2 linked regions of the Homo sapiens genome follow. The main gene of each other region encodes a partner of the protein of the gene in region 2 in a complex. Each region holds a gene or a part of one and is shown on either strand. Other genes may lie near its edges.

Region 1 (7,637 bases), about 60 Mb from region 2:
TGGGTCTCTCTTCAGCCCAAGAACGGGTAACAGAGCAAGGTGGAAGCTTGGGGGGTCACTGGGTCCCTCTCTCCTCCAGCCTCCCGGCCCAGGGCCTCAGCCCTTCATAGAGAGGCTGCAGCTGGAAGCTGCATGCTCTCCACTGACTCGTCCTCAGAAGAGGGCCAGAGCAGCGTTACCTCTTTCTGTGGGTATCCCAAGGGTTCTGGAAGACCGGGGCAGTCTGTCCGTCCCACCACAGAGGGGACATGCTGGGCCCAGCCCTTGGGATTTCTGGCCTGAGCAGGGGGTACAGAATGCAGATTTCTGGCCTAGATCTGACAGTACCTCCTTCCCTATAAAATCAGACTGAGCATTTCATTAAAGGTGAGAATAACTTGGGAGGCTTGACTCACAGCTTGGGCTTTAGTTGCTACAGAAGTTCAGCCCACCTGCTCCAAAAGGGCACCCTTGCTTTCTCCCTACCTCAGTGCAAGGAGTTCCCAGCTAGGGCTGGGTGCGGTGGCTCACGCCTATAATCCCAGCACTTTGGGAGGCCGAGGTGGGCAGATCACCTGAGATCAGGAGTTTGAGACCAGCCTCGCTAACATGGCAAAACCCTGTCTCTATTAAAATACAAAAATTAGCTGGGCGTAGTGGTATGCCCCTGTAATCCCAGCTACTTAGGAGGCTGAGGCAGGAGAATCACTTGAACTCGGGAGGCGGAGGTTGCAGTGAGCCAAGATTGCACCACTGCACTCCAGGCTGGGTGACAGAGCGAGACTCCATCTCAAAAAAAAAAAAAAAAAAAGGAGCTCCCAGATGACAGGAGATGGAAGCATCTGCTTGAGTGGGTGGTACTAAATCTTAGGGTGGGAGGCTGGCCTTTCGCACCCACCACCTCTGAAAGCTCATCTCTCCACATAGCCTGGATTCTCTCACCCCCTCTGCTCAGGCCTGTGGGGCAGGGGTGCCTCCCTGAGACAGGCCTGGGCTGCCCACACTGGGCTGTGATGGAGGAGTATGAACTCTCCTAGCAGCAGGGGCGAGAAATATCTTTATAAATTAGATATGTTGCTTGCTTGCTCAGTAGTTTCTTGTACCCCAAACCAAACCTAAATCCAAACTCCTTACTTTGACTTATCAAAGCCCAATCTCCTCTCCTACCAGTCTTCCTGGCTACAAAGTCCTCCTTTCAGTTCTTCCCACAGGCCGAACGCTCTCCAGCCTCAGGGCCTTGGCGTATGCTTGTTCCCTCTGCTTGGACTGCTTCCCCCACTTCCCTGCCTGGCCACCTCCTTTCCAGAGAGGTCTTCCCTGCTCACCTACCCAGACAGAACCGACTCCTGCACCCCGGAGATGTTTCAATTCCTTCACAGATCGACTACAATTTGTAATTTAAGGTTTGTTTTCTCTGTGAATTGTTTTCTCTGTCACCTTCGCTGGACAGAAAAATCCCATGAGGGGAAAGATGAGATCTATTTTGTTCTAAATTTCTCGTGCCCAACACATAATAAGCTCTCAATAAAGAAGTATTGAATGAATTTATCTGCCTGCCTCCTGGTATGCCCACATGGTTCAGGTGGGAGGGAGGTAACCATGGGAACAGAAGGGGAAGGGAAATGATGTTGTCCCCATAATGCCCCATGCGGTGGCACCAGGAGCTTTTCATGGGCTTTATTCCATTTGTTTATCACATTGGGGCAATATTCTCACATAATGCTGCAGCTGAGGAAACTGAGGATCAGAGAGGTTAAGTCAACTCACCCAGTGTCCCACAGCTAATAAGCAGAGCTAGGATATGAACCTAAGTCTGACTCCAAAGCCCATGTTCTTTCTGCTACGCCACGATGACCATTGATTGTGACTCAGGCCTGGCAGGGGAAAATAACTCCCAATGTCCCTTTAGGCCAAAATTTCCAACCCTTTGCTTTCAAGAACTCCTTTCTTATCTCTAAGCCCCATCTCTCTCCTCTGCACTGTTAAGAAAACACTTTTGGCTTGGTCTATAATGAGTGAGAAAATGGGACATCTTTTGAATGACTCTTTGAACCCAAGTGTTGTACTTTCTAAGGGGAGCATAAAAATCACGTCTGCTTTGGCTGAAGAGAGGACACCCTGACTAAAGACTTCTAGCCTAGTTATAACCCTGGGTGGTGACACAAGAAAGAAGATGGGACAGAGAATCTCTTATTGACTGAGGCCTTAGGACTGAAGTTCCCTCTTATCCCTCTTTGCAGAAATGTATCTTGCTGTAGCATTAGATTTCAGTAGTGAGGAACTGTCCTCCTTAGACCATGTTTATTGTGCATTAGGTGGAAAACTGAGGTAGAAGAGTAAGGTAACTTGCAATGTTAGGGTCTAGGGTTCTGTTTTTCTCCCTTCCCTGGGCCAAGCACAGATCACTTGGAGATGGTCTTGGTGGAAAGGAGCCTGTCCCTGAAGGTCCCGGGCTCCTGGCCCTTGTCAGCAGCCCTCCAGCACTGACCACTGCTCCCAGAGGTCTCATCCTACCTGTCTCCTGAGACAGCTGCAGAGCTCAGCTCTTCGGCCTCATGTCCACCCACTGTCACCGGTTAGGTCACTCAAACCCTGTCCTCAGTTCTGCCATTGCTCGCTTCACCACATCCCAAGTGGGACTCAGCTGCAGTGGAACAGATCCTTCCCCTGACACACTGGAATCTCCTTGTCCTCACTCAGAACATTCCATCTACCGCCATGTCTGACTTGTCTATTTAAACAATTCTCTATAGACCATACCAGCTAACAGGGAAAATAGATCTGGTTTGTGTAGAATGCTCTTTAAATATGAATCTAAGTGATAGATCATCAAAAACTTGAAAACTGGTTACACAGGAGATCCTGCAAAGGGAGGGATCATTCTCACCCAGAAATATCTCAGAAAGACTCAGAAAGAACAGCACTGCTTTGTTCTCTGACCACACCTGAGTGAAAACACACACTCACACCTCACTCTTCAGGCATTAAAAGGCACCAGGAAAGAAAGCTGAGAAAGATGGAAGTTTCTCTAAAGCCTGAACGTGCAGTAACAATACCACCATCACTTAAATTACTTTTTCTTTGTAGTCTTCCCTGTGGTCCAAATCAAATTACTTTTCCAATATTAAAAAATTATATAGTTTCCTCTCTTCTGGAATTCTGCCTAGCACTAGCCCGAGGATCAGTTTTGGGGAGCCCCTGCTCTAGGGTGCTTTGTACCATTGTCCCAGTACCCTGTACTCAGGTACATACGAAGCACTAGGCACGCAGTAAATCTCCCACACTCCTTTCTTCCCTTCCTTCCAAACATGTTCTTCATTTCCCTGTGGAACCCAGAACCATGTCATGCACACAAGCGCACGGTGCCCAGTGGCGTCCGTTGATGAAACGTGAACTCTATTTGCTCTAGTCTAGAGCCTTCTTTCTGACCTGTTGGCCCAGGCCTGGGTCACCACCTTTCCACTGGTCCTCAGCACATATATTCTGGGTCTGCCTCCCCTTAGTTCACTTCCAATTCATCACAAAAAAGTAGGTCCCAGCGACTCCATCTATCCACAATGGACAGCTTTCCTCCTCTCATCTGAATCCTGCCTTCATTTCAGATGAGGCCCAAGTCCCCTCTTCTAGAGTCTGGAGCCTCCTCACCTGCCTCCCAGCCTGAGTCTCTTTCTGTCTGGCTCACTTATCCCAGCCAGCCTCTCCCTACTGACTGTCCACTGCCTGAGGAACTTTACGTGTATTATCTTTAATATCCTAACAACCCTCTGAGGTGAACGTTATCATCCCCACTTTACAGATGAGGAAACAGAGGCTCAGAGAAGTGACAGAATTGAGACCCCAACCTATGCCTACTGGCTCCAAAACCTCTGCTTTTTTTCAATCTACCACATGGTATCCACTTATGAAATATAACTCCTTTGTTGTCCACTTGTCCATTACACATCTATTGAACACCTACTGTGGGAAAGACACCAGTCTTCTTTCTCCGACTAGATTTAGAAAGCCTTTCCTTTTCTTGGATCCCTCTTGATATTAAGCACAGAAGCCCTAAAGGAGCCCACCATCTACAAATAGCTGTTGGGGATCTCTATTATCATCCCTGCTACCCCCTGCCCCTGCTGCCAGCCCTGCCTAGATTAGCATTTGCTGACTGATGTTTCTCTGGCACTGTGCTATTGGTCTGTGTGGGAGGGAGGAGGGGACAGGGAGCATCTCCACCCTCACAATCTTCAGGCCCCTTGTCTAGGGTATTGGAGGCAAAAGCTGGGTTTGGCCATGTGGTACCCTCCAGTCTCATCCCTCTGTATTCCCCCATATGGACTGGCCCTTCAGGATAGCTACACAGGGGAACCATGGGACAGTCAACTCAGGAAGATTCAACTTTAGGTGTGCACCCAGCCAAACAGGGAGAAAGAGAGCCAGAACAAATTAAATAATGCATGTTGTTCTGCTTGATGAAGTCTCTTTGGGCTGTTGCGGGGATTAAATGAGTGAGTATGTGTAAAGCACGTATGACAATGCCTGGGACATTTCAAGGTCTCCAAAATGTGTGCTAGATCTTTTCCTTTCATGCCTCCAGCCTTCTCCACCCTGCCCTTTGTCCAGAGGGCTCTGCCTGGGCTCCTCTCCCCTCTGGCTTTCTGCTGTGTTCAGCCATCGGGAGGCACAAGCAGGAGATGAGAGGCGTGGGGAGACAGGAACTGAGGCTCCTAGTCCCTGGGGGCTGGCTGCTGGGCCACAGTTAGGCAGGTTCCTCCACCCAAGGCTGCAGCTGCTGTCTGGGCCTCTTTGGCAGCCCTGGTTCTCACCTGTTCTGGTAACCTTCCCTCTACTGGCCCCTTCAGGGATGCTGGCCTCCTGCATCTGGCCCCAGGGTGCAGCTTGTTGGGTCATTTAATCCTGCCCTTTTCTGTAGAACCTGTTCATAAAGCTTTCTTGGCTTCCCCCTTGGACGAGCCACCTGCTCCCTGCTGCCACCCTGGTTAGCCATTAGCAATGGTGGTACCAGCAGTATTTCCTCTCTGTGGACTCCTCCTCTATCTTTAAGACTCACTTCAAATGTCGCCTCTTCTTGGCCAAGTCTTTCCTTAGGCTCCCACACAAAGCTGGCCACATCTTTCTCTGTGCACACAACAGCACTTTGTCCCCAACTCTGCCATGGGACTCACCAAGCTGTGCTGAACTTTCTCCCTTTACCCTCCTGTCTCCCCACAAGCCTGTGTGTGGCCCAGACACAGGCCTGGCTTGTGAGTGTGGTGGTAGAGCCAAAGAACCCCTTCCCCAACTGGGTCTGCTCCTCTCTGTGCCTCAGTTTCCTTATCTGTAAAATGAGGACTAACATCTCTTTTTAAAATGGGATTTAATCACTATGAGAGATTAATCATTGTTTTTTAGTATTAATTTAATGAGTTAATAATTATGAAGAGTTCAGAACAGTGCCTGGCAGGTAGTAAGTCCTGTGTTTGTTACATAAAACTAAGTGACAATAAGTGGACATAAATTCTATATCCACAGCAGTGGGCAGCGAGTGGCCCTCTGTAGATGTTAGTGGGATGAATAGATCCAGCCACACTTCTTCCCAGGCCTTTAGAGTGTGCATCCCAGTGGTACCAGGCTTTATTTGACTCTCATTTTCTTATCATCCATCTTTTCTTTTTCTTTTGCTTTCTTTCTTTCTTGTCTAGGGTTCTCTCTGTCTCTGTCTCTGTCTCTCTCTCTTTCTTTTCTTTCTGTTTCTGTTTCTTTCTTTTTCTTTTTTTTTTTTTTTTTGAGACCAGGTCTTACTCTGTCACCCAAGCTGGAGTGCAGTGGTGTGACCACAGCTCACTGCAGCCTCAACCTCCAGGCTCAATTGATTCTCCTGCCTCAACCTCTCAAGTAGCTGGGACTACAGGTGCACAACACCACACCTGGCTAATTTTTGTATTTTTTGTAGAGATGGGGTCTCGCTATGTTGCCCAGGCTGGTCTCAAACTCATGGACTCAAGTGATTCTCCCACCTCAGCCTCCCAAAATGCTGGGATTTCAGGCGTGAGCCGCCACACCTGACTTCTTTTCTTTTTCTGGAACCACTTTATTGAGGTATGCCTGACATGTAAAGCGCTGTATATATTTAGTGTATACAACCTGATGAGTTTGGGGATAAATGTGCACGTGTGAAAGCATCACCACCATCAAGGACATAGACAGTGCCCTTCATCTTTTCAGAGGCTCTTGACATGTCAGCTAGTTTGTAGTATTTCACCCTGTGCCTGGCACAGCAATCACGCCCTGCTTCTCCTTGCTTTCCTTCCTCGCTTGCTGCTCCTTCTCCTCCAAAAGTTGAGGTACCCCGGGCTCTGTCCTAGGTCTCCTCTCCATCTGCACTGTCTCTCTAAGTGACCTCATTCATCTCAGGGGTTTAAATACCACTCACACCCCCAAGGACCTACCGATGCTTATCTCCAGGCCAGACCTACAGCCTTCTCAGTCACCTCTAGCAGGCGTCTCAAACTTACAGCATTCGAAGTGGAACGCTAGGTTTCCACCACCTCCTGCTCCGTCTCCACCAACCTGCTCCGTCTCCACCAAATGTGGATTCACCCTTGATGCCTCTCTTTCTACGCTCGCAGCCAATCCATCAGCAAAGCCTGTCAGTTTTTCCTTTAACATGTATCCTGAATCCGACCCATTCTCACCCGAGTCCGAGCCCCTGCCTCTGGCCTGGGCTCCTGCAGGAGCCTCCTGACTGAGGTCCCCTTCTACTCTTGGGCCCCTCAGTGGATTCTCTACAGAGCAGCCAGAACAATTCCTTTTAAATGTAAATCATTCACACTTACAAGAAAATCCTGACCTGACCATGGCCTACCAGGCCCCTACCACCCCTCCGACCCATTTCTCACCATTCTCCACTCACGATTCCTCTGGGACACACTGTCCTACTTGCTGTTCCATACAGGCGGGCATCTGCTTGCCTCAGGGCCTTCACACTTGTTGCTTCCACTTTAGGGAATGCTCTTCTACATGTATCTCTGTGGCTCCTTCTCCTCACTTCTTCTAGGTCTCTGCTCAGATGTCACCTCTTCAGAGAGGCCTTCGTGACTGCCTACCTTGTCACTTACTATCTCTCTCTCCCCATCTTAGTTTATTTTTTCATAGAATTTATCACTATCTGGCATTGTATGATACTTTTGTTGATTTCCTTTTAACTACCTGTCTTCCCTACTGGAATGTACTGTCTAAGACAGCAAGGGCTTTATTTTGTTTTTTGATGCTTAGAGTACTGCCTGGCATATATTAAGGGCTCAGTCAATATTTATTGCCTATGTGAATAAATGAATGATTAACAAATTCCTAGAGAGTGGTGGCTCTTTCTGATCTTATTCATCCCAACCGGTTGTCAGATGCCTGGCCTCAGGCAGAATACACAGCTATGCTCATAAATGCATGATTGCTGAAGAGGCAATAAATACTTTTAAGCCAATGAGTAACCAAGTTCCTACCCTGTGCTGGTGCTGCGAACAGAAGAGCAGTCTCCCTTTGAAAGCTGGTTCTCTGAGGGAGAAAACAGTCTCTGACCAAGCCCTGCTCCCCCACATCCTGGCCCAAGGTTGCTACTAGTTACTGGAAGGGTATGCAAGTGCTCCTGGCGGCCTTGGGGTAACTTCACAAATCAAAGG
Region 2 (8,049 bases):
GCACATTCTCAGCAGCACCTCCCTCATGGCTGTCTGACACCTGCCCACCTACCTGGCTCTGACCGTTCCCACCACCATCTGCATGTCCCCACTGGGCCTGAGTCTAGCCTGGGAGCCAGGATACTGGGGTCCTTTTCCCACTCTTCCACTGACTTGCTGTGTGACCTTAGGAAGTCTCTGCCCCTCTCTCAGCCTCAGTGTCCCGAGGGCCCCGAAGCATTCCATTCTCGTGGAGGAGTTTCCTTGCTGAGATTTCAAATAGTCCTCCCCACCTCAACTGTCACCACTGCTAAGGGACTCTATCCATTGAGCACATTTTCCTAAGGCCCTGCTGTCTGCCGAGGAGCGCCAAGAAGATGTCACTTGTTTACACACGAACTGCCACATCCCCAAGCTCCGTTCTTGCCCCTCGTGTCCTAGGCCCAACCCAGCCTCCCAGACCTCACTTTCCCCATCAGCAATACCTGGTGTTCTCCCACCTTGAAAGGACTCTTGGCTCCTGCCGGGTTCCTGCTCAGGCTGGAATTGGGAAAATATGCAGGTGACATTTGTTCATTCTCTAATCCCATCCTCTCACCCATCCATTTCCTCACTCAGTGGAGATTTGCCAAATGAATAAACGACACCTTTGAGGCCCCAGGTGAAGCGGGGCCCTACTCCGGCCTCTGCCTTGGGCCTCGCCTCTGTCCTCAGGTCCTCTCAGAGGCAGATACCTAGGGGAGCTGCTGCTGCCTGCTCATTCTAGCTTCCGATTCCATTCCCAGCCCCTGCGTTAAGGTCCCTGGAGAGGTGGCGTCAGTGGGGGTGAGGAAGGGCATCTTCCTGACTCCTCTGCCCAGTGCTGGAAGGAGCATGCCTGGGTTAGTGGGCCAGGGGCCAGGCAGCTGGGGGCCTTTGGGGACCAGAAGGGGAGATGTGCTCCCAGAGCCTCTCTGCTGTAAGACCCCAGCTTTTCCTGGAAGATGGGACTCTGGGGTGTGTGGTGCTCACCAGAGTCAGGCCACCCACTGGGCTCGGCAGGAGATAGGGAGCCCCATCACCTGACCACAGCCCCCCACCAACATTCCCCCAAAATGCAGCCTAGGAGGCCGCAGTGCTCTTCTTCCTGCCCAGACCAAAATGTTCCTTTTAGTCCTCAATGTTTTATATTCTTTTTGTTTTGAAAATCTCAATTTTAATCAGGGGTTTTAAAAGAAAATTGAAAGCCTGAACCTCCATTTTTCTTCTTGGCTCCAGTTTTGCTGGTCCTCTGGAGAACTCTTCGTGAGCACTGGTGCCGTGACCCACTTGGGATCTCTGCTGTGCCCTTCTCGGGCTTCCAGACCAGGTGTAGCAAATGAAAAAGTGCAGTTAATTCAAGAACAGGAATCCCTGTGTCCTTGCTGGGATTTCCTTTTGGGAACCTGACTTTCCGACTCCAGATCCTGCTGTCTGGATCAGTGTTCTGGCTGGAGGTGCTGGATTCTCTGATTTTGCCTCCTCACTCTGTGTCTGGCTTTGCTCCTGGGTCTTGGCCCTGGGCCATATGAGGGGCCAGGAAATGAACGACAAGGAGGATAAGAGTGTTCTTTCTTGAAAGCCGGGACTTCCCCTCAAGAACCTGGGCCTGGGGCCGGGACTCTGCATGACTGGGAGCAAGTCACTTAAACCTCCTGTGCCTCGATTTCCCCCTTCTACAAAGTGGGGCCAATGATTCTTGTGTGTCAGCACTGTTACTACCGAGTGCTGAGTAAGGGCAAAATAATACCCCTTTCTCTATGTATCTCTGTATGCACACGCACTATATATATATATATATATATATATACATTCATGTAATCACCACTTCTCGATGTCTATTTCAAATCAAGGCTCCTGAGTAGGGGGTGAAGTGAGCCAGCTTGCACCTCAGGCTAACACATAGGACTTTGCTCAGCCATGTCCCCTGGGATACAGGGGCACACCAGGACCAAGTGGCAGACCTGTGGGCTTCAGCCTCGGGGCCGGGGCATGCCTGCCACCCCCTGACAAAAACAGGTTCCACAGTGCTACCCTTGCTTCCTGCCCCTTGAGGTGGGCCAGGCTGGCTCCTGGCTATGCAGGGATCTCTGGTCCCCAGGAGACCTTGGGGGCCAGGCAGGTAAGGATCAGGGGTGATAGGGGAGAGCAATTACTTTGTTCACTGTATGCACCCGCGGGGGCCTGGGAGTCCCCATTTGCAGGTGGGTAGGGCCTCCAGCCCACACCACCCAGACCTAGGCTTCCCTCTTCTCAGGATCCACCACAGGGTTAGGGGACAGGAAGCCTGTTCTATTCTCAATAAATCTTACAAAATTCCAAAAAGACTTTCCTGTGTCCCTCTGTCCCCCTGGGGGGAAGGGACAATGGAGGAATATTCCCCAGGCCTGGGCGACTGTCCGCTGGTCAGAGGGAAGGCCCCGCTGCCTGCCCGGTGCACCTGTGAGCTGAGATTGTGGGGATCATTCAGTCATTCCTTTATTCAGTAGATCTGTACGGGGCTGGCTTTGTGCCAAGGCCTGCCCCGGGCACCTGGGATGTGGGGAACCAGGCATAGCAATCCCTGCTCTGGGACAGTCTACAAACGAGCAGCGAGAACAAAGACATACTCTGGTCATGACAGACACTACCCCGCACATTACTGATGGGGCAGTGTGGGCCTGCTGGGTTAGAGACGGCCTACTCCCTGATCTGTGCATGAAGGGCTGGGAAGAGGAGATGGGCCTTCGGGGCACAGGAAGGTGTGGGGGGACCAGAGCGGAGGCTGCTGAGGGCAGATGCAGGCATCTAGGGCCAGGAAGCTGGTGTGGTGGTGGGGAGAAGCAGGGTTGGGATGACTGAAAGCAGAGTGGACGACTCAATGAAAAACGACTTGGGAGACGGGGTGAGTGCAGTGTGAGGGCAAAGTGAACCGAGATGCCTCGCTTTCTTCATGGGACTGAGAAATGGGTATTGCAAATCGTGTGATCTGCTTAGCATAGTGCCTGGTTCATAGCATGGCTGAACACAATGTAGCTGTCATCCTGGTGTTTGGAGGCCGCCCTGTCCCCCATAACCTGCCCACCTCTCTGCCCCATTCCCACAGCTCACTGCATTTTGTCCCTGCTGCCAGTCGTGTGCCATGGGCTCTCCTGTGCTCCCCCGGGGTCTCATTTCCCCATCCGTGTAGGGCTGACGCCACTGGCCCCGCCCAGCCTGGGAGGATGGAGAGGGGGGACTTGAGGAGTGGCCAGTACTGGGTTTCGGCAGCAGGTGCAAATCCCAGGTGGGGACTGTGTTCCAGGGACTCCTGGACTCCTGTTAGGCCAGCAGGCTAAGGGGCAGACGGCATCCTGGGGTCTTCCTGGGACAGGGTCGTCGGGTCTGAGGGGACCCAGGCCCTAGCAGAAGCTGACTCCTGTCACGGTCACTTCCCAGCGGTGCTCAGCCCGCCTGACGGAAGCAGCTGGGCAGTGGGGCCTGTGACCAGCAGGCGGCGCTGGCGAGCTATAGCGCCCCTTTGGGCCCCCACCCCACCTTCTGGGCAGCTTCCCTGCAGACACCCCAGTTATGGGGGCTAGGGACCCAAAAGAGACATCCTTCTGCCACCCAGAGCTGCCCTGGCGAGGTGCACTATGGGGCCGCCGACAGCTGCGTGGCTGCCGAGGGCGGAAAGGAGAAACTGTCATGTCCCGATAGGGCCGCGCGAGGTCTCCATCCTCGACAACGCTAATAACAAAGACGTGTGCTCCTCTTTGCTTGGTTCCCCCCACTCCTTTAAATCACAGATTTCACTTCAGTTTATCTGTGTCGCTGTCACACGTGGGGTGGCTCCCAGTCAGCTGGTTTGGCAAAGTTTCTGGATGATTACGGAATAACATGTGTCCCCAACCCGCAGAGCAGGTTGTGGGGGCAATGTTGCATTGACCAGCGTCAGAGAACACACATCAGAGGCAAGGGTGGGTGTGCAGGAGGGAGAAGGCGCAGAAGGCAGGGCTTTAGCTCAGCACTCTCCCTCCTGCCATGCTCTGCCTGACCGTTCCCTCTCTGAGTCCCAAACAGCCAGGTAGAGGAGGAAGAAATGGGGCTGAGACCCCAGCACATCAGTGATTAAGTCAGGATCAGGTGCGGTTTCCTGCTCAGGTGCTGAGACAGCAGGCGGTGTCCTGCAAACAACAGGAGGCACCTGAAGCTAGCCTGGGGGGCCCACGCCCAGGTGCGGTGCATTCAGCAGCACAGCCAGAGACAGACCCCAATGACCCCGCCTCCCTGTCGGCAGCCAGTGCTCTGCACAGAGCCCTGAGCAGCCTCTGGACATTAGTCCCAGCCCCAGCACGGCCCGTCCCCCACGCTGATGTCACCGCACCCAGACCTTGGAGGCCCCCTCCGGCTCCGCCTCCTGGGAGAAGGCTCTGGAGTGAGGAGGGGAGGGCAGCAGTGCTGGCTGGACAGCTGCTCTGGGCAGGAGAGAGAGGGAGAGACAAGAGACACACACAGAGAGACGGCGAGGAAGGGAAAGACCCAGAGGGACGCCTAGAACGAGACTTGGAGCCAGACAGAGGAAGAGGGGACGTGTGTTTGCAGACTGGCTGGGCCCGTGACCCAGCTTCCTGAGTCCTCCGTGCAGGTGGCAGCTGTACCAGGCTGGCAGGTCACTGAGAGTGGGCAGCTGGGCCCCAGGTAAGGATGGGCTGCCCACTGTCCTGGGCATTGGGAGGGGTTTGGATGTGGAGGAGTCATGGACTTGAGCTACCTCTAGAGCCTCTGCCCCACAGCCACTTGCTCCTGGGACTGGGCTTCCTGCCACCCTTGAGGGCTCAGCCACCACAGCCACTGAATGAAACTGTCCCGAGCCTGGGAAGATGGATGTGTGTCCCCTGGAGGAGGGAAGAGCCAAGGAGCATGTTGTCCATCGAATCTTCTCTGAGCTGGGGCTGGGGTTAGTGGCATCCTGGGGCCAGGGGAATAGACATGCTGTGGTGGCAGAGAGAAGAGTCCGTTCTCTCTGTCTCCTTTGCTTTCTCTCTGACACTCTTTATCTCCGTTTTTGGATAAGTCACTTCCTTCCTCTATGCCCCAAATATCCCATCTGTGAAATGGGAGTATGAAGCCCCAACAGCCAGGGTTGTAGTGGGGAAGAGGTAAAATCAGGTATAGACATAGAAATACAAATACAGTCTATGCCCCCTGTTGTCAGTTGGAAAAGAAATTAACTTGAAGGTGGTCTAGTTCTCATTTTTAGAAATGAAATGTCTGTCTGGTCATTTTAAAATGTGGCCCTTAAATTTCACGCCCTCACCACTCTCCCCCATCCCTTGGAGCCCCATGTCTCTAGTGAAAGCACTGGCTCTGCCCCCAGCCCTCATGGCTCATGCTGGCATAGGGCGCCTGCTCCACAGCCTGGGCACCATCTTCAGACAAGTGCCCGGTGGCAACTGCCTGCTGGCCCTGTTGAATCCACATCTCCACCAGGCATCCAGACTAGTTCAGGTCTCTGGAAGGACTGTGGGTTTGCTGTGTCCCAGAGCTCCAGGGCAGGGGTCAGGGCTCGGATGTCGGGCAGTGTCATGGGCAGAGGATCGAATGCCCCGGCGGCTCTGAATGGGCCCTTGTGAAAAATTGATGCGCATTCTAGGAGACAGGTTGGGAGCCAGAGGGGCCTCATACCAGGGTCTGTAGGCTGGGGCTGCCTTTTAAGCTCCTTCCTGAGGCCGTCTCTGGGTCTGGCCCTGTGCTGGACAAGGCTGGAGACAAGGCAATGTCTCAGACCCTCTCCCATTGGCCACATCCTGCCCTGGATCAACTCGCCAACTTTGGGGGCAGAGGTGGGACTGACCCTTACCCTGACAACATAATGCATATAGTCAAAATGGGATAAAGGGGAATATAGAGGCTCTTGGCAGCTTGGGAGTGGTCAGGGAAGGCTTCCTGGAGGAGGTATCATCTGAACTGAGCCATGAACCATAAGTGGAAATTCACTAGTCAAAATTTCAGGTAGAAGGGCCAGTGTGTGAAGGCCAGGAGATGGCAAGAGCTGGCGTATTTCAGGAACAGTGAGTCACTGAGGATGTCCAAGTATAAGGGTAGGAAAGGGAGTGAGCAGTGAGAGAAAAGACCGAGGCATCAGCAGGGGCCAGATTGTGCTGGGCCTAGCGGGGCGGGCCCGGGCCCGGGCCCAGGCCCAGGTGCGGTGCATTCAGCAGCACAGCCAGAGACAGACCCCAATGACCCTGCCTCCCCGTCAGCAGCCAGTGCTCTGCACAGAGCCATCCTGAGGGCAGTGGGTGCTCTTGAGAGGTTTCAGGCAGGGTGTGCTGTGAGCAGGTCATGCCCAGCCCTTGACCTTCTGCTCAGTCAGGCTTGTCCTTGTCACCCACATTCCTGGGGCAGTCCCTAAGCTGAGTGCCGGAGATTAAGTCCTAGTCCTAAATTTGCTCTGGCTAGCTGTGTGACCCTGGGCAAGTCTTGGTCCCTCTCTGGGCCCCTTTGCCGTAGGTCCCTGGTGGGGCCAGACTTGCTACTTTCTAGGAGCCCTTTGGGAATCTCTGAATGACAGTGGCTGAGAGAAGAATTCAGCTGCTCTGGGCAGTGGTGCTGGTGACAGTGGCTGAGGCTCAGGTCACACAGGCTGGGCAGTGGTCAGAGGGAGAGAAGCCAAGGAGGGTTCCCTTGAGGGAGGAGGAGCTGGGGCTTTGGGAGGAGCCCAGGTGACCCCAGCCAGGCTCAAGGCTTCCAGGGCTGGCCTGCCCAGAAGCATGACATGGTCTCTCTCCCTGCAGAACTGTGCCTGGCCCAGTGGGCAGCAGGAGCTCCTGACTTGGGACCATGGTGATTCTTCAGCAGGTCAGTGTTCCCACCTCTTTGGGTGGCCTGTCCTCCCCAGGCCATATCCCCTCATCCATATGCTTACCCGTGGGACACCCTCCCCAGGGTGTTCTCTTGGAAAATTCCTGCCTAGGCTTCCAAACCCAGCCCTCCAGGCTGAGGCCTAGTCTGAAACCTGTTCCCTCTGCTGTGCCAGCTGGGGTTTCCTTCTCTCACTGGCTCACCCCACTGGGCAGAAATGAGTTTATTTACACACATCTCTGGATCCCAGGCAGTGGAACAGCATGTGCAAAGGCCCAGGTGTGGGAAGGTCCCTGGGGAAGAGGAGAGGAGGTTGGCAAGGCTCCCAAAGCCAGGCCAGGAAGGGCCCTGAGCCCAACTTATTCTTAGGGCCTTGGGGAGCAGTGACTGGAGGGCGGGGGGTGACAAGGCTTGAGCTGGAGCCCCCTGGGATTTTATGGGAAGAAGCAGAGGTGCTGGCCCGAGCTGAGTCCTCCAGCCCCCCTTCCTACTGAGGGCCACAGTGGCCTCTGACCCTCAGCCCTTCCCCGTGATCAGTCTGAGGCTCTAATGAGCTCCTGGCCTCCAGAGCAGGAGCCAGGAATGTGGGCCCTGAGCCAGGTGGGCCTGGCAGCAGGCCGTAGGGCTTGTGGGGCTGTGCATTATGGGGGCTTGGCCAGCAGCTTCTCGGTCTCCAGGGTCACCAGAGGCCAATGGCTCAGCCTTGCCTGGCCACCCTGAGGCTGCACGGACCAGCATGTTTGCATATGAGTGCGTGCGCGTGTGTGTGTCTGTGTGTGTGAGTGAGAGGCAGGCTTCAGGGCAGCATCAGGACAGACATTCTTCTATCCCAGGGGCTGGAGGAGACCCCCTTTAGAGCCCCTTGGCCTGAGAGCCTGTTCAAACGCCCATTAGAGATGGGCAGGATCTAGGAGAGGAAAAGTCCATTCGCTGAGTGTTTGCTGTGTGCCAGGGCCTGGGCCCCCATAGCCCTCCAGGGGCGTCCTCCCTCAGGGGGCCTCTGAGGCAGGCCTCTGGCTGATGGGACCTCCTCACCACCCCCTCCTCTCCTGCCCCTCTGAACGCTGACCCACCTCCAGCTGTGGGTGGCCTCTGTTGGGAGCAAGTGTCTTGTAGGTGAATGCCTGTTCTGCCTGCCCTCAAGCAGGAAGTACACTCAGCTCCTTCCTTGGTCCTGAAGAAAGCCCCAGCCCTGGGGAACCGGCCAGCTCTGCAGTTGCACAGGCC

The links. Proteins that work in one complex are often made in the same cells at the same time.
Region 1: the proteins of MYO7A (region 2) and USH1C are in contact, whole or in part, in a crystal structure (PDB 5MV9), measured with the Homo sapiens proteins. Residues at the interface, in NP_000251.3 of Homo sapiens: Phe1946, Val1953, Ala1976, Lys1995, Lys1996, Trp1998, Gln2017, Pro2020, Lys2021, Arg2024, Tyr2026, Ser2112, Ala2113, Phe2114, Phe2115, Glu2116, Val2117, Lys2118, Ile2128, Ser2161, Gly2163, Asn2164, Thr2165, Tyr2166, His2168, Leu2181, Glu2183, Thr2184, Ser2185, Leu2186; in NP_001284693.1 of Homo sapiens: Glu450, Pro456, Ile457, Val461, Val462, Ser463, Tyr466, Glu467, Lys479, Gly480, Pro522, Tyr526, Asp527, Asp528, Glu529, Leu530, Thr531, Phe532, Phe533.

What each region holds. Positions count from the first base shown.
Region 1 is NC_000011.10:17,534,103-17,541,739, forward strand, and holds part of USH1C (harmonin), read right to left. Parts: intron 1-7,637. UniProt on the Homo sapiens protein: Anchoring/scaffolding protein that is a part of the functional network formed by USH1C, USH1G, CDH23 and MYO7A that mediates mechanotransduction in cochlear hair cells. Required for normal development and maintenance of cochlear hair cell bundles.
Region 2 is NC_000011.10:77,123,834-77,131,882, forward strand, and holds the start of MYO7A (unconventional myosin-VIIa), read left to right. Parts: upstream 1-4,412; 5' UTR 4,413-4,656; intron 4,657-6,755; 5' UTR 6,756-6,801; coding exon 6,802-6,819; intron 6,820-8,049. Other genes in the region: CAPN5 (calpain-5), read left to right, coding at 1-37. UniProt on the Homo sapiens protein: Myosins are actin-based motor molecules with ATPase activity. Unconventional myosins serve in intracellular movements. Their highly divergent tails bind to membranous compartments, which are then moved relative to actin filaments.